Linked DNA regions of Homo sapiens: regions 1, 2 and 4 are each reported to be linked to region 3. Evidence: microRNA targets listed by miRTarBase, many of them from high-throughput screens and not tested one by one. Region 3 holds a microRNA gene; each other region holds the end of a gene's coding sequence.

What was found. Region 3 holds the annotated microRNA hsa-miR-3121-5p (UCCUUUGCCUAUUCUAUUUAAG, at 3,713-3,734, shown strand). A microRNA usually pairs through its seed, bases 2 to 8, with sites in the 3' UTR of a target mRNA and lowers its output. Matches are read on the target gene's strand: a 7mer-m8 pairs with bases 2 to 8, a 7mer-A1 pairs with bases 2 to 7 and ends in A, and an 8mer does both.
Region 1: miRTarBase lists INSIG1 as a target of hsa-miR-3121-5p. Seed matches in the 3' UTR shown: 7mer-A1 at 1,782-1,788.
Region 2: miRTarBase lists BBS9 as a target of hsa-miR-3121-5p. Seed matches in the 3' UTR shown: 7mer-A1 at 5,516-5,522.
Region 4: miRTarBase lists REL as a target of hsa-miR-3121-5p. The part of its 3' UTR that is shown has no 7-base or 8-base seed match.

The regions. Positions count from the first base shown.
Region 1 is chr7:155,306,863-155,314,029 of GRCh38, forward strand. It overlaps INSIG1 (insulin induced gene 1), which reads left to right. Exons shown (of 6, transcript NM_005542.6): 6 at 1,379-3,373. The coding sequence ends at 1,408. LOC105375592 (a long non-coding RNA gene) reads right to left here. Exons shown (of 3, transcript XR_007060612.1): 3 at 3,331-6,144. Among named protein-coding and RNA genes, the nearest start is that of INSIG1-DT, 11 kb to the left of the region's middle.
Region 2 is chr7:33,604,215-33,611,214 of GRCh38, reverse strand. It overlaps BBS9 (Bardet-Biedl syndrome 9), which reads right to left. Exons shown (of 23, transcript NM_198428.3): 22 at 6,240-6,350; 23 at 5,146-6,020. The coding sequence ends at 5,989. Among named protein-coding and RNA genes, the nearest start is that of FLJ20712, 120 kb to the left of the region's middle.
Region 3 is chr1:180,434,925-180,442,091 of GRCh38, reverse strand. MIR3121 (microRNA 3121) reads left to right here and starts at 3,702; the gene lies at 3,702-3,778. The region is part of intron 3 of ACBD6 (acyl-CoA binding domain containing 6); the gene reads left to right. It also overlaps the pseudogene VDAC1P4.
Region 4 is chr2:60,921,458-60,928,607 of GRCh38, forward strand. It overlaps REL (REL proto-oncogene, NF-kB subunit), which reads left to right. Exons shown (of 10, transcript NM_001291746.2): 10 at 306-7,150. The coding sequence ends at 1,078. Among named protein-coding and RNA genes, the nearest start is that of REL, 43 kb to the left of the region's middle.

The DNA.
Region 1 (7,167 bases), not on the chromosome of region 3:
GGGTTGCCATTTACAATGTGCCACCATTAGGCAACACTGCTGGAAGTCCCTGTGCCACGTGTCAGGTCCGCCCGGGCTGGCTGTCGTTCGTCTCTGGCGTCTTTGCCAGGCCTCACTGTGGCCTCTGTCGACCAGGGATTCTAAAAGTCCACTTCCCATTTATTTATCAGCACATTAGTGAACAGGGAGTCAAATGTGATGACCAGTTTTCTTTCCAGGTTGCTGCCAAGAGTTTGCTCTTTTGTTTTCTCACCGCAGTTTGTATAGAACCCTCCCAGTGTTCATATCTAAAAATTGGCAGTGCTTTCACATGATCAATTCCTAAAAGCATGTATGTTTCCTAGAAGGTCTTATTGTGTGTGTCCCCAGGGTAGTAACTGGCATACCTGGGTGACTCAACCCAGACTCATGACTTTCTTACCTGTCTGTTCAGATGAGAGGCTCTTGCTGTTTTCTGGATGAGTAATCTCCGTCATTGCTGAAGGTGAGGAGCTCAGCTCCTTCCTCTTAAAGTGAGTGGAGGGCAATTAAGTAACGTGGGAAGTCACGATTCTGAGGGAAAAAAATTCTGTATGGAGGTTTCTCTTTTGCCCTTTAGCAGAAGCTCCGTGGCCTCAGGAAGGTCATTTAATCTCTCTGGCTTTGCTTCTTCATCAGTGAAATACTGTTCTCCATTAAGAATTTACCCTGAGGTGCCTGGTCATAGTAGTAACTGTAGTGTCTACCTCTCAGAAGCTCTGTGAGGGTCAGATGAGGAAGAACATGTAGAAAGGATTTCCCAACTGTGAAGCTCTGTGTGAATTGAGGGCACACAGAGCTTCAGTATTACAAAGCATGACCTATTTCCAATGTCTGTTTCAACAAACTGCTGGTAAGGTGGGTTATAACACAGGCATCAGATACTAATAAAGGTTTGTGGCAGAAACCTCCCTTCAGATAAAGGTTCAATCCCTTAAATTGCAGTTAGAACTTTCAGGAACCTATCATACCCTAAGCATCACCATGCTTTGATAAAATTGGGTGTTTCCTTTATATAGATATTAATTTAGTTAAACTTTCACCAATATCTTACACTTATATAACAGGCTTTATATAAGGGCCTCAGCAGCGTAATTTCACCTGAGGCAGAGAATTATCCTAATTTTGCAGGTGAGAGCTGTGGCTCACGGGGCCAGAGCCATGAAGACGGTGCAGGGGAGCTGGGAGAGCTGGCCTCGGTCTCCAGTTCTCTGCACATGTCCCACCTCTCAATCTTGTTGCTTCAGTCAAAGAAAGTGTCAATCTTTCCCATGTTAGGACCTACTTAATTGGTAATTAAAATATTTATACATTTAGTGCTAATTTTCTCTTTCCTTTTTTTTTTCCTTTCTACACATAGGGTGTTCCTGAAAAGCCCCATAGTGATTGAGTCTTCAAAACCACCGATTCTGAGAGCAAGGAAGATTTTGGAAGAAAATCTGACTGTGGATTATGACAAAGATTATCTTTTTTCTTAAGTAATCTATTTAGATCGGGCTGACTGTACAAATGACTCCTGGAAAAAACTCTTCACCTAGTCTAGAATAGGGAGGTGGAGAATGATGACTTACCCTGAAGTCTTCCCTTGACTGCCCGCACTGGCGCCTGTCTGTGCCCTGGAGCATTCTGCCCAGGCTACGTGGGTTCAGGCAGGTGGCAGCTTCCCAAGTATTCGATTTCATTCATGTGATTAAAACAAGTTGCCATATTTCAAAGCCTTGAACTAAGACTCAATTACCAACCCGCAGTTTTGTGTCAGTGCCCAAAGGAGGTAGGTTGATGGTGCTTAACAAACATGAAGTATGGTGTAATAGGAATAATATTTATCCAAAAGATTTTTAAAAATAGGGCTGTGTTTAAAAAAAAAAACAAAACAAGAAAAGCAGCAGTGATTATAGAGAGGTCACACTCTAAGTGGGGTCGCGGCGTGGCCACGCTTCACGGTCACGCTCGTCCGTCCTGCAGTGGCGTGTTTACATGGTCACACGTGTGTGTATCACCAGTGGGTCAACTGCTTGTCATTCCTCCCGTGGCAGTTTGTGTAGACAATCTTACTGAGCAAAAGGCAATGAAAAGTCTTGGTTCCCACACTGCGATATATTGGAATTTTCACCTCAGTTTATGAAGTTTATTTCGAAATCCATAGTCATCTAAGAATGAATACCTGTCTGCCATGTATTTCAATCTTAGTGAGCCAAAATTGTTTGTTTGTTACTACAGAATAGAGATGACTGTTTTTTGCCACAGCCCTATGGAATTTGCAATCTGTGATTGCCTTGTAAAAAGGAGAGTGCATATGGCACTGCATTAAACGTGTGGTGTTTCTAGTCAATGATATTGGTGAGCACAATGTATTCATTTAATGGCATAGACCATACCAGACCTAATTTGCAAGTATTGGGTCTTAAACTTCAAGTGCAATGTATATGAAAACCAATCTGAGCCTTGTATCTCTTAAATATTTATTTTTTTTAACGTGTGAGATGTTCGAGAGAAGGTTCTCCATTCATTTCAGTGCTGCCTGGAGGAAACTCGGCAATGATTTCTTTCAGTTGTGAAGTTCCTTTCGTGTTACACCCTCCACTGAACCCTCAACCTTCGAAATACTCCAGTTTTGTGGGTTTGGTCATTTTTACTTATAAATTTACCTTTTTGTATTTTGCAATTTACATGTGTTTGGTTTGTTTTAAATTCTGTGAAAGTGGCTTGATTAAAAGACTCCTTTTAAATGGAAGCCACCAGTCAGCAGAATGGAAGCTTAGAGGAACTTGCCTGTGAGCGCTGGTCTTTGTGTTTGGTTTTGTGATGTAACGATCTTTGCTGGGGTTTTTTGCTTTGTTTTGAGGGAAATGTCTTGGAGTAAATTTTAAGTTCCTGGAGTTAATTTGTTTTACAGGAATTTTGTTTTTTAAAAAAATAGGATCATTCTGAACTTTGGAATGACCCCCTTATATATTTTCTGAAAATGAAAACAGTTACATGAAAAAAATTTCCAATGAAGATGTCAGCATTTTATGAAAAACCAGAAGTTATTAGATGAAAGCAGCGAGTGAATCTTTAAAACAGACTTGATCACGCACACACAATAAGTCTTTCTCTCCGAAACCGGAAGTAAATCTATATCTGTTAGAAATAATGTAGCCAAAAGAATGTAAATTTGAGGATTTTTTTGCCAATAGTTTATAGAAAATATATGAACCAAAGTGATTTGAGTTTGTAAAAATGTAAAATAGTATGAACAAAATTTGCACTCTACCAGATTTGAACATCTAGTGAGGTTCACATTCATACTAAGTTTTCAACATTGTGTTCTTTTTGCATTCATTTTTTACTTTTATTAAAGGTTCAAAACCAAGTGTTGTATTTATGTTTGCTTTTTAAAAAACAGTTGGGGTGGTGGTCTCTGTGTAGGATGTTAGAATTTGTAATGGAGAAATATTTTGCAGTTCTTCAAATTTTACTGAATTTTGACACAACCTCTTGGGAAGTATTTGAATCATCCTTCAATATACACAGGACATTGGTTCCAGGATACCCCACGTATGCGAAAATCTGCATACTCAAGTCTGGCACTTGGCCCTACGGAACCTGCGTACACTAAAAGTCAGCCCTCCGTATACGTGGGTTTCACATTCAGCAAATAAACCATGTTTGGTTGGAAAAGCTCCATGTATATAAGTGGACCCACAGGTTCAAACCCTGTGTTGTTTAAGGGTCAACAGTATGTGTTTTTCTTATGGTAGAAAGTTTTAAGTGCAGCACGAGCTGAATTGAACCTGCCACCTTACCCCTCCTCACCACAGGCACCCGGTTTTCAGGCAGGAGGAGCGGGCATGCCTGGCCTGTCACAGGGGCAGCTTCCCTGCTGCCAGCCGGCGTGGCTGGAGTTACTTGCACTCACAGGTTATCACGATGGGATGAGAACTGAAGAGATGCGTTGAGCACCAGGAACATTAATGCTAGGCAGGCTTCACATTACTTGTAGTTGTGAAATCGCATGTCAGTACTAGCAGAGAAAGGCCTTACCTTATATGTACCAATCCATTTTATAACACAGATCCAAACCAATAGGTTTCTACTACATTTAAAACATGAAACATCCATGTATGGAAAAACTGGTAGATCTCATGATAAAAACATTTCCCTCATTACAGAGACTTGAGGTTTGCCTGAGATTAACCCAATTTATGTGGATCAAGTATAGGAATGCCTGCTGAACTAGTCTAAGTTCATGTTTATTCGTTTTTTGAGACAGAGTCTTGCTCTGTTGCCCAGGCTGGAGTGCAGTGGTGCGATCTTGGCTCACTGCAACCTCCGCCTCCTGGGTTCAAGCCATTCTCCTGCCTCAGCCTCCCAGGTAGCTGGGAATACAGGCATTCACCACCACACCTGGGTAATTTTTTTGTATTTTTAGTAGAGATGGAGTTTCACCATGCTGGCCAGGCTGGTCTCGAACTCCTGACCTCAAGTGATCTGCCCGCCTCGACCTCCCAAACTGCTGGGATTGCAGACGTGAGCCACGGCGTCTGGCCTATTCATGCTTTAGAATAAGTTTTGGAGGTTAAACGTTTCCTGGAATTTTTCTGATCTATTGAGCAAGTGATGGAATGAAACCATTTCATTAAGGGTAAGGTGTGTAATTTACAGAAGATTTCCTTGTTCACGTCTTTTCAACTGAATGAGCAAGGCTGAGTAAATAGGAACTCAAGATAGATTCAAAGATGTTTGTTTGGCTAGTTTTAAAAGCCACCTGTGATCTTAACCTAAGCAAGATTTCCGGCAGATTGGTTTAAATGAATTAGATATAATCATTTGGTGACCTGGCACTCTCCCTATCCTTGAATTATAGACATTTCCTTTATCCTGGTGGTAAAAAGAAACGAGAGAAGGGAGCAATTATAAATCTAAACTTGCCTTTTCTACTTTACCTGTTAAAACAGACCTTTTACTAAGAATGTTCACTTTCTCAGAGTTTCAGATCATCTCTTTGTAATAATGTAACTTTAGCATACCCTTCTAGGGATATTCTCTTTGAAAAGTGTTAATGCTGTAAAATATTAATAAAGATACTAAAATTTAGCCTTAATGTATATTATGCAATAAGCTGACCTAGTCCTCACTAATCCACCATTTTATTTACTCTTGGACTGAGGTGAGCTTGTAAGCAATAAATTAGTCACAGGAGGGATTGCATATTGATCCCTAAATGTAGTCAAAATATGCAAAGAAAAAGGTGCATGAAATAGATCCAAGTCCTAATACCCAAACATAGTGCCCTGCAGACTTTATACATCTTGGTAAGATTCATACCTGAAGAATGGCTTCCCTGAGCATTTATAAAAACACCTAATAGTGCCTGGCACAAGATAAGCTCTCAATAAATGTTACTTTCTCTTCTTGCCCCAGTTTTCTCAGGGAAGAATAAACGGCTGAGATCGTGCGTTAGGTATGGTAGTGCCAGTCTACGTTTGTAGTCTTCAAGACAAATGGTCACATAACATGAAAAGTGGTTTTTTTATTACTATTTCCACGTATTCGACACTTAATTTTTCTGAGTGCTTTGACACCCTTTTTTCCTCATTGTTCTCCACGTTCCCAAGTTCAGGAACAGAAGGAAGATGAAGTCAAAAGCGCTGGGTCCACAGAAGTAATTTCCTCATCAGAACCTAGCTCTTCGTATTTTTTTCTGTGTCTTCTCTCAGGCAAGTTTTTCATTTAAAATCATAGGTGTCTTCCAGTTCATCCCTCAGACCTCACCAAAGGGTCATCCCTGGCTCTCCTCTTCACATCAAACCTCCCAGAGTTCCTCCGGGCTGCAGAGCCCTTGTCACAGTGGCCACCAGAGTGGGCACTGTCAGGCTGCTTTCCTCCCGCAGGCCAGATTCCCGGCAGAGAGGAGCCGCCTCCTTGCTTGTCCTATCCTGGTGCCTCGCCACAGCCTGGATCCTGCTTCATCACACGTGTGTGCTGGAAGCGTGTGAAGAGATGACATCCCCCACTTGGTCACTGGCCATCCAGGAAATATTTCTGGGTGCCTATCATGACAGAGGCAGGCACATGGGCTGTCCCCAGTCCCATCCTGTTGCCAACAGCCCTTGAGTCCCCTTCTGATTTGTGATCTCCAATCTGTGGGGAATGAGATAAATAAAGCTGTTAGAATCAATCATACAATGAAAATCTGGGTCAAGATCCAGGGAGGACTCCTCCAAGTAGAGTGGATGAGTTTCAGTGGCAGGATTTGTTTTAACACCAATACGAGCTGTTACAGGATTAGGGATTCTTTTTCCCAGGAATGGGGTTGGAAGTGTGCTGAACCGTCCACACCCTCCCGCCCCACTGCACTGGTGCCCGGCATCTGCTTGTGGGTGGCCAGTGTGACACCCACAGGCCCAGGAGGAAGCACCCCACGGGCAGCACCAGTACAGAGTCCTTGAATCCCTCAGAGCCTTCGCCCATTCCCACCTGCCAGCCTGCCCTTCCCGGGTACACACTGATTCCTCAGAAATTCCATCTTTTCAAGGAGGAAGGCTGCTTGCTTCGGTATGTGATATCTGTCCCTGCCCTTCAAATTAGGTCTCATTTGCCATCAACTGCTTTCAAACCCATCCCTATTTTCTTTAGTGCCCAGGGGCCTGCTGACCCAGGCTAATGTGGACATTTGGCCTCCCCTTTTCTCCTCATTCTGCATCAATCACGTTAGTTGCAAACACCCAGCTAGGGCAGGGTGCATGTGAGCAGATGACTGCGAGAGAAAGATCCCAGGGTCAGGAGGGTAGCAGTGTCCACGGACCTGCACCAACCTTGCTCCTAAAAAGCCACTTCCTACCGCCTGTTCCCTGTCCTTGCCAGCCCAGGAGTGGTGTGCGAGCCTGCGTGTAATCAATCCCCCTCCACAAGCCCGGCTTGCTGGGCCGGCTCTGGGGCTTCCTGCCTTTGCCTCATCACACACTGCTCTTCATGTCTTCCTCAAACATCCAGCCAGCTGTAGGAGCTGCCTGAAGAAAGGTCAGCATGCCAGCAAATTATGTGGAAGACCGTTTCAGAGTTTAACGCATCCACCAGGAGGGAGAGTTTGCACCGTATTAATCTTGCCAGGACTGGAAATAAATCGTGAGTCCTTTTATTAGGCTGGGCACATGGAAAAGCCCT
Region 2 (7,000 bases), not on the chromosome of region 3:
TGACATCATGAACTTCTCTTTCTGGAACTGGTACCAGACGGAATAAACATGATTACTGTAGCCTGTTAAACAGAATTTCATCAATTTAATAGCATTTTAAACCTCTTCACTTTCTCCAATCTGATGATCCTGGAGCCAATGAAGCGGCTGGGCCCTCTTCAATCTGACAGCTTGCTGTGAACTTTTTATCTAAAACCGACCCTTCAGCCAACTGAGATACAAGACTGACTCAGTCCCTTTTGGGACAATTCATGGAGTGGCTGCTAAGAAATAAGCATTAGTAGAACTGTCCCTGAATGTATAAGGTGAAACATCTCTCCACAAAACCAAGACAGCGAACAGAGAATTGCTGTTTTGCTAGTCCATAAAGGTTTGCTGATATTTCTCAGGGAACAATTAATTACTAAAAATGAAAAGTAAAAGTGTACTTACATTTGAGCCCAAAGCTAGGTCGAGGCTCACACTGGCAAACTTAAGAAGACCTATAGTATATTTAAGGGAATTTTGAATACCTCCTTACTGTTATGGTTTGAATGTTTGTTCCCTCCAAAAGTCGTGTCGAAACAGTATTTAGAGGCGAGACTGTTAAGAGGTGATTAGGCCATGGGGGCTCTGCCCTCATGAAGAGATTAATGTCATTATCTTGAAAGTGGGTTCATTATCAAAAGTTGAATTTTGCCCCCTACTCCCTCTTTCTCTCTTGCCCTCTCTTGGCTCTTCTGCCACGCAAAGAACAGCATTGCTTCCTGCCTCTGGAGAATGCAAGGCGCCGTCTTGGAAGTGGGAGTTGGACCCTTACCAGATACCAAACCTTCTGGTGCCTTGATCTTGGACTTCCCAGCTTCCAGAATGCTAAGAAATTAATTTCTATTCTTTATAAATTACCCAGTCTGTGGTATTCTGTTATAGCAGTACAGAAATAAGACACTTACAAAATCTGCCCTTTCCACCCGCCACACTCATAGTGCTATCCCATACATATTTTGGAGTTATTTCAACCATGGAGGAAATTAACAAACCAATAATTTAAAGTGTAGTTTCTATTCTCTCTCTCTATCTCGCTCGCTCACTCTCTCCTGTTATAAACAGATTTACTGTGATGCTAATCAGGCTTAAACTTCAGGGCAGTTCCTTGCCCAGGTGTATGGTCATATGCTTTTGCACAATTTGAAAAAAGACATTTTAATCATGATTGGTGAAAACTACTGTCTCTTCTGCCTGTCTTCCCCTTGTAGCAGGCATTGGAAGGGTGGTGGCCTTGACAATCTGGCTAAAGGGAAGTTGAGTTGGGGAGACATTCAACTTGGGCTAACTGGATATATTTATGTGGATTACAGACAACTCTGTATATGGTTAAATTACTGATAGCTATTCTGCTGGAAGAATGGATTCCAGGAATATCATTACCACCCACTGCTCTCACTTAAGCCAGTGTCATAAGAGGAAGGTGTGGAGCAAAACGCTGTATCACTAAATAAGCATGTTCTATGCAGCCTGGCACCAGAAGCATAAATGTGTTGGAGATAAAATATGATTTGAAACATATGAAATCTGACGTCCTGACCATCAGACATGTAAAAGCAGAAGCAGTAAGATTCCAGTTTCATGGACCCCAAGTCAAAGGAGAATTTCTTGCCTGTTAAGAATATATTTAATAATTCAGAGTATACAATTACAAACTCATCATAAAATAACTTTCCCAATTAACTCCTATATAAAATGGATAAAAGTTATTCTGTCAATAAGCAAATTATAACAAAAACATTTTCAAATCATACCAAAATTAACTCATTAAGATGAGATGATACATTTGAAAGAGAATAAGCAGACTTTGGATTGTCTAATAATCTAGCTAATGAAGAAGAGTAAATCGCATGAACATATTCGAAAAATATTTAAATATCTTCTTGCTGATTTGAAATAAAATACTAGTGGTAATGAAGATCATTTCAATGAGGATTTTGATGATAAACTGGCTAATGAGTTGTCAATTTCCACAAAGACCAATGGAACAAAATAGTGAACCCAGCAATAAAGTCACACGCCTACAGCCATTTGATCCTCAACAAAGTCAACAAAAATAAGCAATGGGGAAAGGGATCCCTGTTCAATAAATGGTGCTAGAATATGTAACTAGTCATAGAAAGAAAAATAAAACTGGACCCCTATCTGTCATTATATACAAAAATTAACTCAAAATGGATAAAAGATTTAAATGTAAGACCTCAAGCTATAAGAATACTGGAAGAAAACCTAGGAAACATCATTCTGGACATTGGTCTTAGGAAACAACTTATGAGTAAGTCCTCAAAAGCAAATGCAACAAAAACAAAAATTGATAAGTAGGACCTAATTAACTAAAGAGCTTCTGCATCATAAAAGACACTATCAACAGAGTAAAAAGACAACCCATTGAATAGGAGAAAATATGTGCAAACTATGCACCCAACAAAGGTCTAATATCCACAATCTATAAGGAACCTAAACAAATAAACAAGCAAAAAACAAATAATCCCATTTAAAAATGTGCAAAAGACATGAACAGGCAAGCATTCAACAAACATGAAAAGATGTTCAACATCAATAATCACCAGAGAAATGCAAATTGAAGCCACAATGAGACACCCTCTCACACCAGTCAGAATGGCTATTATTAACAAGTCAAAAAACAATAGCTGGCAAGGCTGTGGGGAAAAGGAAATGCTTGTACACTTTTGCTGGAAATGTAAATTAGTTCAGCCACTGTAGACAGCAGTTTGGAGATTTCTCAAAGAACTTAGAACTACCATTCCACCTAGTCATCCCACTACTGAGTATATATCCAAAAGAAAATAAATAATTCTACCAAAAGGCATAGGTACTTATACGTTCATTGCAGCACTATTCACAATAGTAAAGACATGGAATCAACCTAGGTGCCCATCAATGGTGGACTGGATAAAGAAAATGTGGTACACGTATACCACAGAATACTATGCAGTTATAAAAAAGATCATGTCTTTTTCAGCAATATGAATGTAGCTAGAGGCCATTATCCTAAGCAAATTAATGCCAGAACAGAAAACCAAATACCACATGTTCTCACTTATAAGTGGGAACTAAACAATGGGTACTCATGGACTTGAAGATAACAACAATAGACACTGGGGATTACTAGAGGTAGGGAGAGGGGCCAAAGGTTAAAAAATAGCTATTGGGTACTATGCTTAGTACCTGGGTAATGGAATCAATTGTACCCCAAACCTCAGCATCACCCAGTATACCCAGGTAAGAAACTTGCATGTGTACCTCCTGAATTTAAAATAAAAGTTGAAATTATCTAAAAAAAAAAAAAGAGAGCTATCAATTGCATGGCTATTTAAAATGTATCACTGCATAAGAAAAATTAAAATGCCCTGATAATATAATCCTAAAAACCTGGCTGACATTACAAATGATGAGTTGTAAAGCTGAAAGAAGCTTTTGCAAACTATCAGTAATTTTTTTTAAAAAAGTCTGATCAACAATTTCAGAGAAAAAATTATCTTTTAATTCACTGTATACAAAATGAAATTACAAATTGTCTATAATTAAAGAAGTGAATAAGAAATGTGTGCAAGAAAATGCAGAATTGTTAAAAAGGTATATCAAGTAGTTAATATAAATATTTGTATAGATTTTGTGATATATATGGTGATTATCAGCTTTTTACAAATGTGACTTGTTATTCTTTTCTTATTCTAAATAAATGTTCATTTTTGTAACTAATGTTGTATTAGAATTTTTATTCATCTTATTTAAAACCTGAATCCTGTGTTTAAATCAATGTTACCCAAGTACTCATGAACAAAATCATTAAGTATTGAATTTTCAAGATTCAAATCTCTCTTCAAAGCCAAATTTAAGAAAAAATAGTAGGACAGTCACATCAGCTTCCTCTCAGCATAAACTGAAATACTAAATTAGGAAGGTTAGACCACAATGTTCTAAATCACCGGCTTCTCCATTTCTCTATGACTTGTTGACTTCTTTTAGGAGATTAGTTGACCTTTTGATACAACAAATATTTACCAAGCAGCGAAAAGAATCCAAGAACAGTTATGTCCAAGGAGCTTGCAAATCTATCCTACCAGGAAAGGAAAACATGACTTCTGAAATACAATAAGTAAGAGAGAGGTATGTAGAGAGGCATAGAGTTCTCCAGGGATTCTAAAGAGCGGAAGATGAATGCCAAGAAAGGTGATTAGGAGAACCTTAAGAGGAGACAGTGGGACTATATTCATTTCCCCATTCCATTATAGAAATGATTTAAGGGGCATATAAGAGAGACACAACAAGAGAGAATACACTAAATGTTGAAGCAAAATAAAAAGACAAAAACGAGGAGAATATAATAAAGGGCCAGAAAATAGGGCTAAAAGTACAGTCCATGATGCCTTGTCCACTTATTCCAAGAGGACCTCGAATGTGGCTCTTGGTGTAGGGATAAGGAGATAATTGATTCAAAATGAGCCTTGAAGTGAAGGGTTGGGGTCTGAGTTTACAATTAAAATGAAATGATGGCAAAAAAATCTGGGAAGTAGGGTGTTGGTAACGTTTTCCCCACATTAGCCAGAATAGAGACCCTCTCTGCTCCAGACATTAAGCACTGGGGAAAGTGGTTATTCCAAGAGGCATCTTACTCTGATTAGGCCTTGGCAGTTGTGCCGTACCATAAGTTATATATTTTCCAGTCCAAAGCAACAAAACCCTTAATGCATGTAATGTCCACATAGCTTCCATAGTTCACCTGCTAAAACATAAAAATAATGCCAGCTAATTCAACACTGCATAAATCACAAGGCCGTTGAGAAGACAGCATCCAATAGAATCCACACAGCCTTCTGTTGCTCTTTCAGAACCATCTCTATAATTGTTTTTGTATTTCACTGATAGGTTTACTTTTTGACATAAAGGACTTAAAGAGAAAATGATAATTTCAGTAAAATTTTATGCTCATATCATGGCTATAAATGATCATAATGATGTTATTTTGATAATATATCTGCATCTCCTAAAAGAGGATGCTACAAATAATAAGTAATACATCCTCTGCAGTTTTTTTTTGACATTTCACATATAGAAAAACCATGAACAACTTTCCCCTTTGTACTGAGAGGCATTCCAAAACTGGCAAAGGCATATTTTTATTTAAATAAATCAATCTCACAACTGTAATTCGAACTTGAAATTAGCAAAGTTTCTTTCACTTCTTACACATAAAAACCTTAAATTTTAACTGTAATAAAGTGTGAATCCTTTAATAACCTGGATTTTTAAAAGGTGCCACCCAATGGGGTAATGAAAAGGGGATGTTAATGTACTAGCTTCCTTGAAAATATTTAAACATTTTCATACAATACTAGAAAACTTCCCTTCTTCCACGTTTAGCTTAATAGAACAAATCACATGAAAGTTTCATAGTGGTTCTTTTATTTATAAAATAATCACATTCAAGTCTTACCAGAGAGTAGCAAAGTCTTCAATTCCTTTCCTTTCCTTTGAAGAAATAATGTAGAGCAATCACTCATAAATCCCTCTAATTATAAATAAAATCCAAGATATTATTTGACAATGAGATGCTTTATTAAACTTGATACATTTACTATATAAGAATTCTGTGAAAAAATGGGGTATGAAATTATTTTGGATCTGAATCTTTGCATTATAAAATCTAACCCAAAACTATGTCATTTCACTGTATTCTGTGACTATTAGCAGATGGATGACCAAAGGCAACTACTTCCTTTCCTGGCAAAACAAGACAAGTTTCAGCTGACTTCCCCATGGTGTTACAAGTTCTCCTAGTGAAGTAAAAAGTCCCAACCCCTCTTTCTATGCATGTCATCTCCAGGAAGGTGAGCTTTAGGAAGCACCTGCGCCAGCCCTATATCTGTGCTTGGCATGAGGTTCACACAGGTTCGGCCTTGAGATGGGGATGTTCCTCTCAACCAAACAACTCTACTTGAATTATTCCGAGACTCCTTGGAGGGGTGAAACTTCTGGAAAAAAAGAGAGTAAGAGAGAAAGAGAGAGAAAAGATCTGAATAGTGACAGGAATACACAAAGGATCAAATTCAGCTGCACCAGTGCTAAGGGGAAGAATGAAGAAATTGGAAAACAAGCAGCTTTGCGGAATGCTCTCTGGTATGACAAAAACTGACCAGATTGTCACTGCTTCTGACTTAACTAACGCTTGTGAAGGCCATCCAGTCTCTTACCAGGCCTGGGTGTCTCTGCAGTGAGATGTCTGTGGTTGGTAAACAGTTCTGTAGAGTCTTGTTCTACTGATCTTTCTTCTAGGTCTGACTCTGGGATTGTAGTACAACCACCTAGTTGAAAAATACAAACAATATTTTAAGCAATGTGTAAGAAAATCTGCCTCTCTACACAGCAATCATAGCTTAGGAACACACTGATCATAAAGATAATAAATGACGTGACAACAATCTTCAGGAGTGGCCTGAAAAGAATAACCTTAAATGTTTCTTTTTGGTGAGAATACTGGGAATGAATTACTGCCCCTAAAGACATATTATACTGATTATGACTTGGCAACAGCAGCAACAGTATTGTCTTTAAATTTATCCTTTTTAAAGTCAGAAAGGACAAAACCTATCCTATAGCATATGTGATATCCAGAATATAAAGGCCCCTCGGCAGGAATTCCCTTTAATACCAGAGCATCAGAAACTATAAAAGAAGCAAAGCACATGAACCATGAGGGAAAGAAGCCTTCCTTGAGGAAAGAGAAAGGTTGCTGGTGTTCTGGGACGGTGGTTGTGGTGGTATTTCTCTGGAATTTGATTCTATTCCTGAATCCCAACACCTTACAGCACAGACACAAACACTTCATAATTCAACAGCAAAGTCATGAACTGCATTGTGGAAGATTTCAATCCAAAGGTGACTTGAGGATGAGCTGGCACTGCTGTGCTTTTGAAGTACTGGGTATAACTCATTTGACTTTATCCACCAAAAT
Region 3 (7,167 bases):
AATAGGTTGACAACAAAAGGAAAAGACGACCAACCTGTAATTCTATACTCAGTTAAGTTATAATAGCTTTCAAAAATGAAGGTAAACTTTACTTAACATAATGGGTATTTATGAAAAACCCAGAGGTAGATCAGGAATAAGACAAGGATGCTTGCTTTCACCACTCCTGTTCAACATTGTATACATAAATTCTAGCCAGAGCAATTAGACAAGAAAAATAAAGAAACAGCATCCAAATTGGAAAGGAGGAAATAAAAATGTTAATCGGTGACATGATCCTACACAGTATATAGAAAATCCAGAGAATCCACAAAGACACCGCTAGAGTTAGTATGTTAATTCAGCAAAGTTACAAGATATAAGATCATAAGATCAGCATGCAGAAATCATTGTGTTCTTTAGACCATCAGCGGATACTCTGAAATGGAAACAAACAAAAAAATTCCATTTACAATAGCCTTTAAAAGAATTAAAAACAAAAACCTGGGAATTTTAACCAAGGATGTGAAAGATTTTAGACTGAAAACTATATTGCCGAAAGAAATTAAAGAAGACCTAAGTTAATGGAAATTCATCTTGTGTTCATGGATTGGAAGATTTAATTTTATTTAGATGGCAGCGCTGTCCAAGTCAATCTGATTTATATGGAATTGCAAAGGGCCCCAAATAGTCAAAGTATTGAAAAAGAGCAAAACTAGTGGATTCAAACTTTGCAATTTCAAAATTTACTATAAAGCTACAGTAATTAAAACAGTATGGTACTGGTATAAGGATAGACATATGGAAAAGAATTGAGAGTGCAGAAATGAACTCTCAAGTTTATGGTCAGTTGATTTTCAACAGGGCCACTTCATACCCAGTAGGGTGTCCGCAATAAAAAAGATAATAACAAGTTTTGGCAGGGATGTAGAGACATTGGAACTGTCTTAGATTGCTGCTAAGACTGTACAATGGTGCAGCTGCCATAAAAGACAGTTTGGTGGTTCCTCAAAAAGTTAAAAATAGAATTACCAATTCTTTTGGGTATATACAGGAGTGGAATTGCTGGGTAATTTGGTACTCAAATACCTGTATACAAATGATCATAGCAGCAGTATTCACAATAGCCAAAAGTGCAAACAACCCAAATGTCCATTAACTGATGAGTGGATAAGCAAAATTTGGCATTGTTGTATACATATAATAGACTATTAATCATAAAAAGGAATGAAGAACCGATACATGCTATAATATAGATGAGCCTTGAAAACATTAAACCAAGTGAGAGGCCAGACATGAAAGATTACATAGTGTATGATTCAATTTATATGAAATATCCAGAATGGTTAAATCCATAGAGACAGAAAGCAGATTGGTGTTGCCAAGGTTTTGGGGGAGAGGGGAATGGGGAGTGACTGCTTAGTGGGTTCAAGGCTAAAGGTTTGGGGGAGAGGGGAATGGGGAGTGACTGCTTGGTGGGTTCAAGGCTAAAGGTTTGGGGGAGAGGGGAATGGGGAGTGACTGCTTAGTGGGTTCAAGGCTTTTTGGGGGGAATAACAAATATGTTGTGGAACTAGATGCAGTTGGTTGCACAATATTGTGAATGTATTAAATGTCATTCAATTGTACATGTTAAACTGGTTAATTTTATGTGAATCTCATGTCAATACAAAAAGAAGTAAACGTGAAATAAAGACTTTTCAAGGCTGGATCTGGTGGCTCATGCCTGTAATCCCAATACTTTGGGAGGCTGAGATGGGCAGATCACTTGAGGTCAGGAGTTCGAGACCAGGCTGAACAACACATTGCAACCCCATCTCTACTAAAAATGCAAAAATTAGTCGGGTGTCATGGTGGGCATCTGTAATCCCAGCTACTCTGGAGACTGAAGCAGGAGAATCACTTGAACCCAGGAGGCAGAGGTTGTAGTGAGCTGAGATTGCACCACTGCACTCCAGCCTGGGCCACAGAGTGAGACTTCATCTAAAAAATAAAAATAAATAAATAAAAACTTTTTCCAAATAAACAAAAGCAGGTAATTCATTGCCAACTGAACTGAACTATAGTAAATTTTAAAGGAACTTCACATGAAAGGAAAATTATATAAGATGGAAATTTGGACCTCCATAAAGGAATGAAGAGTCCTGGAAGTGCTAAATATATGGGTAAATTTAAAGACTTTTTTTAAATTTTAAAATCTCTTTAAAAGATCACTGAACTTCCAGTTTCAGCCTCAACATGTGAAGAACCTGCAAGTTATCACTCCTCTCCTTAACAATAACAGTAATCTGACCAAACTGAAAATCAAAGACTGTTCTAGATCCATCAGAGATTGAGGTACCAGTTCAAACTGCCATCCCCAAAACTGGAGAGACAGGTGAATACAGAGAATCATAACCAAGATAACAGAAGATGCTTGGGCCATAAACTGGTAGAAACACTTCAATGGTAATGGATGAATTGCTTGAGGCTGAGTGTGGACTAGGGAGTCAAAAACTCCTCCCCAGTATTTTTTTTTTTTTTGAGACGGAGTCTCGCTGTGTCGCCCAGGCTGGAGTGCAGTAGCGCAATCTTGGCTCACTGCAAGTTCTGCCTCCTGAGTTCCACCATTCTCCTGCCTCAGCCTCCTGAGTAACTGGGACTACAGGCGCCCACCACCATGCCCAGCTAATTTTGTTGTTGTTTTATTTTTAGTAGAGACGGGGTTTCACCATGTTAGCCAGGATGGTCTCGATCTCCTGACCTTGTGATCCACCCGCCTCGGCCTCCCCCAGTGCTGGGATTACAGGCGTGAGCCCCCACACCCGGCCCCTCCCCAGTCTTAGTAGGGCCTTCCACTTTGGTAGGTTTTATCTCCCAGAATCCCATTTACGGTAAAGAGTCAAGAAAAATCTTGTGTTTTGGGCCAGGGGAAGGAGCATATAGTTAACACTACTGAGTTAAATACCAAAAATGGTTAAAATGGTAAATTTTATGTTTACAATAATTTAAAATTTTTAAAAAGAAATGAGCTATTAGACCATGAAAAGACATGGAGGAACCTTAAATGCATAATGCTAAGTGAAAGAAGCCAATCTGAAAAGGCTGCATACTGTATGAGTCTAATCATTTGACATTCTGGAAAGAGTAAAACAAAGCAGTGAAAAGATCACTAGTTGCCGTGGGTTCAGAGTATGGAGGAGAGTGGGGAGGGAGGGAAGGGTGAATAGGTAGAGTACGGGATTTTTAGGGCAGTGAAACTATTCTGAATGGTACCGCAGTGGTGGGTACATGTCATTATATGTTTGTCAAACCCATAGAATGTTCAATACAAGAGTGAACCCTAATGTAAACTATGGACTTTCATTAATAATAGTGTATTAATATAGGCTCATCAGCTGTAACAAATGTGCCACTCAATGCAAGATGTTAGTAATGGGGGCAGTGGGTGGGAGAGTTGTATACATGTGAGAGGTATGAGATAACCCTATTTTTTGTTCATTTTTCTGTAAACCTAAACTTGCTTTAAAAAGAAGTCTAAATAAAAAAGAAAAAAGAACTATACTTATTTTTTTTGAACTACCACGTAACTCTTAATTAGTAGTCTTTATTTCACAGCAAATAATTACCAAGTGGACCATAGCTATCTCTTCCCAATTGTCTATTTCACTTTAAGAGAGTCAATGAATGGCGCCAATAGAAGCTATGATTGTCTCATGAACAACCTTGTCTTATTGCTTCTTAAATGGTTATGTCCTTTGCCTATTCTATTTAAGACACCCTGTACCTTAAATAGAGTAGGCAAAGGACAGAAACATTTTAAGTTCTCTAACACAGCAGTCCCCACCCTTTTTGGCACCAGGGACTGGTTTAGTGGAAGACCATTTTTCTGCAGCAGGGATTAGGGGGCCAGTGTTGGAGGGGGATGGTTTCAGGATTAAACCATTTGACTTCAGATCATCAGGCATTAGATTCTCATAAGGAGTGCGTAACCTAGACCCCTCACATGTGCAGTTCACAATAGTCTTCACAGTCCTGTGAGACTCTAATGCTATTGCTGATCTCACAGGAGGTGGAGCTCAGGTGGTAATGCTTGCTCAACCGCCACTCATCTCCTGCTGTGCGGCCAGGTTCCTGACAGGCCATGTATTGCTACTGGCCTGCAGCCCAGGGGTTGGGGACCCCTACTCTAACATTCTGTGCATACCCTCATCATAGGGCCTTTGCACTGGCTTTTTCCTATGGCTGGAACAATCTACTCCAGATACCTGCAAGACTCACTTCTTCACTTCCTTTGTCTTTATTCAAAGGGCCTTCTCTAGAAGGCTTTCCCTAACCATCTTATTCCAAATTATAACCTTGTTCCTGGACCTGTTTTTTTTCTTCATAATACTCCTTAGGTTTTAATATTGGAAAACTTATTCATTTATTGTCTGTCTCTGTCAGACCTAACCTGATTTTTGTGTGACGATTTTGTATCCTGCAACTTTGCTGAATAACAGATTGGGTGGAATCTTTAGGATTTTTTTACATATAAAATCTTGTTGTCTGTGAACAGATAACTTTACCTCTTCCTTTCCAATTTGGATGCCATTTTAGGAAAAACTTTCAAACTGTGTTTTTCCTCTGCTCTCATACCACTACAACAACAGAAGACTTCTGTGACCAAATACGTGGGGATTTCTCCCCAACATTATGTGAGCAGTTCTGCAGCAGACACCAACTGGGTATCCTCCTAATCAGTTCTGACACTAGGTGCCTAGAGATAGTGTCAGATTCCACAGGTTGAGGACTCAGTCCCCAGGACTGCCTCCCACCCCTTGACCAGTCACAAGCCCCGGTCTCCAGAATTTCTTACCAACTGGCTTCAAGTTGTGGTTCCCATGACCCCCTCTTTGGGTTCAACTGAGTTCTGGAGTGGCTTACAGAACTCAGGGAAACACATTTGCCAGTTTATTATAAAGGATGTTACAAAGGATACAGATGAAGATGTCGAGGGAAAAAAGCCAAACTGCAAAGTATTTGAAGAGATTTATTCTGCACCAAATGTGAAGACCATGACCCATGACACAGCCTCAGAAGGTCTTGAGAACATGTACCCAAGCTGATGGGGTTATAGCTTGATTTTATATCCTTTAAGGAGATATGATAGCATTAACATTGGCCTGGATACCATCTTGAATAGAAGTGATGAGAATAGATATCCTTGCCTTGTTCCTGATCTTAGAAGGAAAGCTTTCAGTTTTTCACCACTGAGTATGTTGTTAACTGTGGCCTTTTCATATATGGCCTTTATTATTTTGAGGTAGTTTTGTTTTTGTTTTTGTTTTTTGAGGTTTCAATATTTTATTCAGGTTTTTTTAAAGTGATGTTAATTACAGCATTTGAAGGGGAGGATCTAATTCCACACAAAATGGAAGACTCTAAAATGTACCCATTAAACTGCTAAAAAACAAATTGAGTGGTGAGAATACAACAGAAGTCCAATTTAGATTCTGAGTGTTGTCACCATGTGATTACAATCATACAGACACTTCTAAGCTTATAGGTGGAGCTCCTGGAAGCTATTTCATACTCTGGTGCAAGGGCAAAAAAACACAACGCAAGAAGGAATAAGTCCTGAATTATTGGCTTTATCACGTCCACCCTCTCCACCCCAAAATGGCACAAAAGAATCGTGACCACACCACTCTGCAGACGTTTTGGTGTAAAAGAGGTGACGATGAACTGGGGTGGGAACAGGTCATGAAGATATGTCTAAAAAAAATCCCATTCAGGTGAGTTTGTACACACCATCAAGTAGTGAGCTTCTCATCAATTAGGGTTAGATAAACAAGGTTCAATTCTCAGGAAATCACAATTTCTTTCATTTACTCAATATGAATTTACAAAGTGCCTACATATTATCAGCTTCCACTTGCAGCCATTTCTAGATAAAAAAGAAACCTGATATCTCAAAGGGGCCACCAAGTTACCCCCAAGTCTACCACTGAAAGGACCTTTTTTGGAAATGGTTTTCTTCTGTACCTCTGAAAGGGTAACATCTTAAAGCTGAATCATCTTTAACCTGGAGGTCTAACATATTTAGCAATACTTGCATTCCAGACGTACAACATTAAACGATACAGTAAATTCTGAAGGTAGCTATGCTGCAAAATAGTTTAAAATTAAACAATTGTACAGTATTCATTTATGCTTGAAATTCCAGGCCTAAACCAAGCTTGTGGCCACCACCATTGACGTTCTTGCCATCCAGAAGAGCTGACAGTGTCAATTTGATACCTGGTTTTAGGGTCTGAGTGTATCCTAAACCCATCAGGCTGGAGTTATTCACTTTAGCCGAGAAGCAGCTGTCAGAGTCAATCTGATACTTGGCTGCTATTCTGAAGTGCGTGTTACTGTTTCCTGCTGTCCAGGCGAGATTGACAGCGGTCTCTAACTTCTTGTTCACCTTCTGGTAAATGGAGCTGCCAAACTCTGTCCCGTCATTCATATTAGTGTGAAGCTGGAATTCATAAGTCTTGTAGCCAACTGCAAAGTTGCTCTGGGTTACTCGGGACTTTGCAGTCTCAAAATTCATCCAGGCTGGGCATGGTCGCTCATGCCTGTAATCCCAGCACTTTGGGAGGCCAAGGCGGGCGGATCACGAGGTCAGGAGATTGAGACCATCCTGGCTAACGGTGAAACCCCGTCTCTACTAAAAAAAAAAAAAAAAAAATTAGCCAGGCGTGGTGGCGGGCGCCTGTAGTCCCAGTTACTTGGGAGGCTGAGGCAGGAGAATGGCGTGAAACCAGGAGACGGAGCTTGCAGTGAGCTGAGATCCTGCCACTGCACTCCAACCTGGGCGACAGAGCAAGACTCCGTCTCAAAAAAAAAATGCATCTGGTAGCCGGCCAGCCAGCCCTCGTAACCCAGCACCAGAGTACCCCAGATGGAAAGGCCAGCGATGTTGAAATCCGTGTCGCAGCCCAGGTTAATGTGCTTCTGCTTGTACCCTGTCTTGATTTTAGCTTTTTTTTCCCCAGTGTTAGGTGAGAAGGATGAATTGAAGGTAAGCTTCAGATCATGTGCAAGCTGACCTTCCACGGTAATCTCGGTGCCTAGTGTATTGTCGGTGTTCCATTTCTCTGTAAACGTCAGGCCGTACTCAGTCCATCTGTACTTGGTTTACAGACTGCCCATGACTTTGGTGGTCTCAATGTTGGCTGA
Region 4 (7,150 bases), not on the chromosome of region 3:
AAATACCTTTATAGAGCCTCAGAAACTAGATTTTCATATTTAATTGAAGTGAAATTACATATGCCAAAGTAACTTGCCAAAATCATTTTACCTGTATTTGTAAAATGGTATATACGTTACAGAATTTCATTTTGGATTCGTGTAATAATTTTAGTGCTTTTTACATTTTTTTATTTGAAATGTTACATTGGTTTCCTTGACATTTTTCTTTATATATATTTGTGTGCTTATGCAATTTTAATTTAGAAATGCTTTTTATAATTTTGTTCATTTTAATTTCGTAAAATAAATTTTTCCTCCCACAGAACCAAACTTGTTTTCTCATGATGCAGTTGTGAGAGAAATGCCTACAGGGGTTTCAAGTCAAGCAGAATCCTACTATCCCTCACCTGGGCCCATCTCAAGTGGATTGTCACATCATGCCTCAATGGCACCTCTGCCTTCTTCAAGCTGGTCATCAGTGGCCCACCCCACCCCACGCTCAGGCAATACAAACCCACTGAGTAGTTTTTCAACAAGGACACTTCCTTCTAATTCGCAAGGTATCCCACCATTCCTGAGAATACCTGTTGGGAATGATTTAAATGCTTCTAATGCTTGCATTTACAACAATGCCGATGACATAGTCGGAATGGAAGCGTCATCCATGCCATCAGCAGATTTATATGGTATTTCTGATCCCAACATGCTGTCTAATTGTTCTGTGAATATGATGACAACCAGCAGTGACAGCATGGGAGAGACTGATAATCCAAGACTTCTGAGCATGAATCTTGAAAACCCCTCATGTAATTCAGTGTTAGACCCAAGAGACTTGAGACAGCTCCATCAGATGTCCTCTTCCAGTATGTCAGCAGGCGCCAATTCCAATACTACTGTTTTTGTTTCACAATCAGATGCATTTGAGGGATCTGACTTCAGTTGTGCAGATAACAGCATGATAAATGAGTCGGGACCATCAAACAGTACTAATCCAAACAGTCATGGTTTTGTTCAAGATAGTCAGTATTCAGGTATTGGCAGTATGCAAAATGAGCAATTGAGTGACTCCTTTCCATATGAATTTTTTCAAGTATAACTTGCAAGATTTAAATCCTTTTAAATCTTGATACCACCTATATAGATGCAGCATTTTGTATTTGTCTAACTGGGGATATAATACTATATTTATACTGTATATATAATACTGACTGAGAATATAATACTGTATTTGAGAATATAAAAAACTTTTTTCAGGGAAGAAGCATACAACTTTGGACATAGCGAATACAAAATTGGAAGCTGTCATAAAAAGACAACTCAGAGGCCAGGCGCAGGGGCTCACACCTGTAATCCTAGCACTTTGGGAGGCCAAGGCGGGTGGATCACTTGAGACCAGGAATTCGAGACCAGCCTGGCCAACATGGTGAAACCCCGTCTCTACTAAAAATACAAAAATTAGCTGAGCATGGTGGTACGTGCCTGTACTGTCAGCTACTTGGGAGGCTGAGGCACAATAATTGTTTGAACCCAGGAAGCAGAGGTTGCAGTGAGCTGAGATCACACCACCGCACTCCAGCCTGGGTGACAGAGTGAGACTCTGTCTCAAAAAAAAAAAAACAAAAAAAACACACTTTTTTATATTTCTTTTTATAATGTTTTAATGTATTCTTAAATTTCAAGCAAATTTAAGATAAAACTTGTAATGGCTATGCCATTGAAAAACTTAATTTTTTATTTTTGAGGCCCATGGGCCAAGGTAACCCCTAAGGGGTTTTCTTAGGCTTCTTGGAGCTTAGATTTGTATGTATATCAAAATGTCTTTAAAATGTTAAGTTGGGCAGAAGGCAGTTGAAGTGAGCTTTCAAGGTATGGGAGGTTTTCTACATTTTATACTATTTCAATCTATGCCTTTAAAGTTGCTTATGATTTTAGCTGTACACTCATTTTTTAAGGGGAAGAAGTTTCCTTGGACCATTCGCCTTTCTTAGATGTCCTCACTCCCTGTGATCTCATAAAACTGCCTATTTGACATCTCTATCTAGAAATCTAATTAAAGCTCACACTCAGCATATCCAAAACTGAATTCTTGGTCTTCCCTCCCAAACTTGCTTCTCCTTCAGTCTTCTCCAACTCAGTAAATGGCAATGCCATACTTCTGGTTGCTCAGGCCAAAAACCCTGAAGTCATCCTTGATTCTTCTTTTAGCACCCATATCCAATCCATTAGCAAATCTGGTAGACCCTACCTTCACAATATATCTAAAGCTGACCACCTCTTTTGACCTCTACTATTAACGCCCTATTCCAAGCCACCATCATCTCTTCCCTGGATTGAAGCTGTCATCTACAAAAATTCTTCTTATATCCTTGCATTCCTACAGTCTGTTCCCCATAAAGTAGCCAGAATGATTATTTTTAAAACAAGTCAACTCATACCATTCATCTGCTCAAAACCATTCATTGGCTTCTCATCTCACTCAGAGCAGTCAAAGTCCTTAAAAGTTGCAGGCCTAGACTCCCTGTCCTACCTCAGGTACCACCATATCCCACCTCCTCATGCAGCTCCAGGCACCTTGGCCTCAGTGCTCCTCAAAGCATCAAGTATGCACTTGCCTTGGACAGTCTGTACTTGGTATTCCCTCTGCCTTGAATGTTGTTCTCCCAGAAAAATGCATAGTTCACTCTTACATCCTTCAGGTGTCACTCCACTGTTACCTGAGCAGGTCGTCCTTGAATATATACATCAGCATTCCCTTTCCCCCCTGCTTTATGTATGTCCATAGCACTCACCACGATCTGACTTTACTAAGTATTTATTCATTTACTGTTTGTTTTCCCATACCGAAATATAAACTTTCTAAGGACAGAAATTTTTGTGCTTTATTGTTGAATCTCCAATTTGTAGAAAAATGCCTACCTTATATTAAACACTCAGTAAATGTTTATTGAACATTAAAAGTATTACTAATAGAACTTTGGTTTTTGAAAGAAATAATAACTTTAATTATAAGACGTATATGATTTTTGCAGTTTTACTTAGTGTGACATTGGGTTTATGAGAATCGTGTACATTCAAGTCCAGGAATAATAATGGTCATCCAAATTGTTTGAAAGGAAAATAATCCCAGTGGCAAAATGATGGTAGAATTTGGGTAATCTTTTTTTTCCTTTTATGAAAAGAGATTTTATTGAAGGTAAAACATTAGAGGTTCATTGAGAATCTCTAAATCCATGTTTTGACATTGTCAAGCTCATTGCAACTTCCAGATTGAGTAACACTTATAACACATTTCCTTTTCAAAGTGCAAGATTTTTAAAAGAGACTTGTCACATATTCATTTGGCTGGTTTCAAATGGTGAGCTGAATGCTGGGTAATCTCTACTAGCTCCTTAATCAGATTTAAAATTCTCAGTGTTTCCTAGTTGTTTCTGCATACTTTATGTGAGTTGTTATAGCTGTAACATTACACTTTATTTGCTGTTTGTGTTTCGTGACTTTTGGTAATTCTGGCATTTAGAAACCTTTCACTTTGCTTCAAAACGTAGTTATATTTTGGAGTTTTCATTTGATATATAATTATTTATTTTGCCCTTTTATTTCCCAAAGACATTGTAAGGGTTAATTAGATCATTATATTTTATTATTACAGATTAAAGTTGGGCAGTAATCTTAATTATGATGGAATTATCATTATGCTAAGTAATTAACTTTACCTAGTTTGTTTTACAACTAGAACCTGCCCTAAATGTTGAATATCTTCCTAGCAAGAAACAGTCTGTCATTTTACTTACACGATGTCTAACCAAACCATAACTTTACATAAACTAGTCGTTTCGGTCAAATAGAAAAATGTGTGAATGCCATAAAAACAAAAATTCTCAGTTAAATGATACTGGGAAATAGGGAAGACAGCAAAGTGAGACTTGGGCTCAGGATGGTTCAGGAAGAAAAAAAAAGAAAGACCCCTGAGTACCATTAATATTCCTCAGAAATTATTATTTCAAAAGGAAATATTTCTGTATTATAAATTTTTCATGAGCAGCCATTATGAAATCTCACAAGAATCATAGAATTCAATAAAAAAGGTAGAAAGTAATTTTTTTACTTAAAAATATAAATTAAAATAAATTTTTAAAATCATAAGCACATAAATAGAACTTACCAGGGAGAAAGAAAAACCTGAAGGCACAATTTCTTTTCTGTTCAAAATGTGAACCCAGGATGTCTCTAGATGATGATGGATGATAGGTGGGGAGATTTTTTTTTTTTTTAATACAGAATCTCATAGTTTTGGATTAATTAGCACCAATCAGTTTAAACACTGACTGTTAGAATAGCTGCATGGGTTTTTTTCTTTAAACTAATTAAGCGTTGGCTACTTAGTATAAGTAAGTATAAGCCGAATTAAGGTTCTGCTACATCTGTGTTTAGAATATTTTTTTAAAACTAAATAAGTGTTGGCTAGTTTTGCGGTGTAAGCAGAATTAAGGTTCTGCTACCTCTGTGTGTAGAATATTCCCAATGGATTTTTCATTTTTCAGGTGCTATTTTTTGACCCTGTATAGACTTTAATTTAAAATGAATTTGGTAACGTTTCTCCTCTGTCTCTACATATATTCATGCTTTCACCTGCTCTTTTAACACCTGCTTTTAGTATCTGAGGCACTTTTTCTGAACTCTACTTGTGCACTGGATCCCTCCTCCTTTCTCTGCCAGGCTGTGTTTACTTTATCCTTACATCACCACTTAGTGATTCCTTTCTTTGTATAAACATGGTAAATGTCTTCATTAGCCTAAAAGGAAAGACCAAATAAAACCTTTCCTACCACTTGGATGCATTTGCATCCTGACTTCTGAAATGCCTCCAGCCTCCATTTTCTCCCTTCCCAGTTATTCCTTAGCCCAGCCATCTCTGTCTTTAGCTCCTACAATTTTCTTAGGATATTCTGGGAAAGATGAGCGGAGACTGCCCGCCTTGTCAAATCTAGTGTCTTTTTTTCAGTCCTCACACTGCTTGACCTATGTATAACCTCCTATACTTCCCTCTTTGCATACTCCTCTGGGTTTTCTGTGGTAGTCAAGATTCCTCCCTGAGATTTATTTCCCATGAGTCTTGACCCCTCCCCTCAGTTGGTGCTATTTCCCCCTACCCGCCCTCCGATGATCTTATCAGAGCCCACAGGTTCAGTTTTCTTTCATGCTACCTGAATGTCCTGATAAACTGGCTCGCTCTCTTCTTTACCTTCCATAATGGCATTACCATTTACCACGCCACCCAAGATACTTACTAGGAACCTCAAAGTATTGTATTCTTTTTCTCCATCACACTCATACTTAATCATCAAGTCCTTTTGAGCTTGTCTCCTCTTGAATATGTCCCTTCTTAATTCCTGCTGCCTTCTTAGTAAAGGCCTTCATTCTTTTTTCCCTAGTAATAATCTTTTCCATATGTTCCAGTTAAAATACCATGTTCTCCCTATTCCTTATTACATAGCTAGCATTCCTTGAAAAAAAACAATTCTCTCAGGCCTCCATACCTTTAGCATGTTACCCACTCTGCCTCTGCTCTTCTGGAACTAGAACACTCATCCTTGAAGGCTGGGCTTCTGTATGAAGGTTGGTCCTGCCTCCTTACTTGAGGTGAAGCTTTGTACATGCCTGTATTACGGACATCCTCTTATTTAAGTGTTTGTCTCTTTCGTCATTGGGACTCCAGCACCCAGCATAGTCCCTAGTATACTAGTTGGTGCTGAATAAATAGTAGCTATTATTAGAAAAGGAAGGGTGAAATTGACATGGGAGTTAGTAAAATGTATATGGAAATGATTTTTAAAGGGAAAGGTAATGATTTTCTGGCAGGAAAAGCAGCAATGACAAGATTACTTAAGTCTTGTGAAATAACACTTCTCTTCCTTGACCTGCTGCTTCCCTTTTTTACCACACACACACGCACACATACCACAGCCCTTTGAGACTGAAAGCAGCTCTATTGAGAATAGTAGTGTCAACTGTATTATGTAGAAATTCTAAAGTTTTTGGGATTATTTCATAGCCCTGACCTTGCTACTTCTCTCCACTTTATGTGGCAGGTTTAATCTCAGGTCTCCCTCATACACTTCTCAGCCTCAGCACCTAACCCTCACACAACACTCCAGTATTGATGCAGTCAATCTTGTATAACATTTTTTGAATGTCCAATGTGCAAAGCACGATGTTGGAAATTATACAGAGGTGAATAAGACAAAAACTCTTGCTCTCAAAGATGTCAGTCTTTTTCTTTGCAAGGATAACACATGTAGAGTAAAATGCATAAAGGGGACTAATTTTAAATGTACAGCTTAATTAATTTTTATGTATGTTAACACCCATGTCACCACCATGTTTAGGACATTTCCAGCACCCCTGAAATTTCCTTCATGCCCCTTCCCAGTCTGTACCTACACCTCTAAATCTATTTTCAATCTTAATGGCCTTTTAAATAACTGGGCTTCTCACAACCATAGTGAACAGAAACAGCTGGGTTGTCAACGTCTAACCTAATACTTCAGGAAAACTCATGATGGTTTCCATGTTAAGAGAGACATGGAGCAGGGCACTGGCATGGTGGATGGATCACGCCTGTAATCCCAGCACTTTGGGAGGCCGAGGTAGGGGGATTGCTTGAGCCCAGGAGTTCAAGACTAGCCTGGGTAATATAAGGAAAACCTGTCTCTGCAAAAAAAAAAAAAAAAAGAGGATACAACCAAATGGAAGAACATTCCATGCTCATGGGTAGGAAGAATCAATATCGTGAAAATGGCCATACTGCCCAAGGTAATTTACAGATTCAGTGCCATCCCCATCAAGCTACCAATGCCTTTCTTCACAGAATTGGAAAAAACTACTTTAAAGTTCATATGGAACCAAAAAAGAGCCCATATCGCCAAGTCAATCCTAAGCCAAAAGAACAAAGCTGGAGGCATCACACTACCTGACTTCAAACTATACTACAAGGCTACAGTAACCAAAACAGCATGGTACTGGTACCAAAACAGAGATATAGATCACTGGAACAGAACAGAGCCCTCAGAAATAACGCCGCATATCTACAACTATCTGATCTTTGACAAACCTGAGAAAAACAAGCAATGGGGAAAGGATTCCCTATTTAATAAATGGTGCTGGGAAA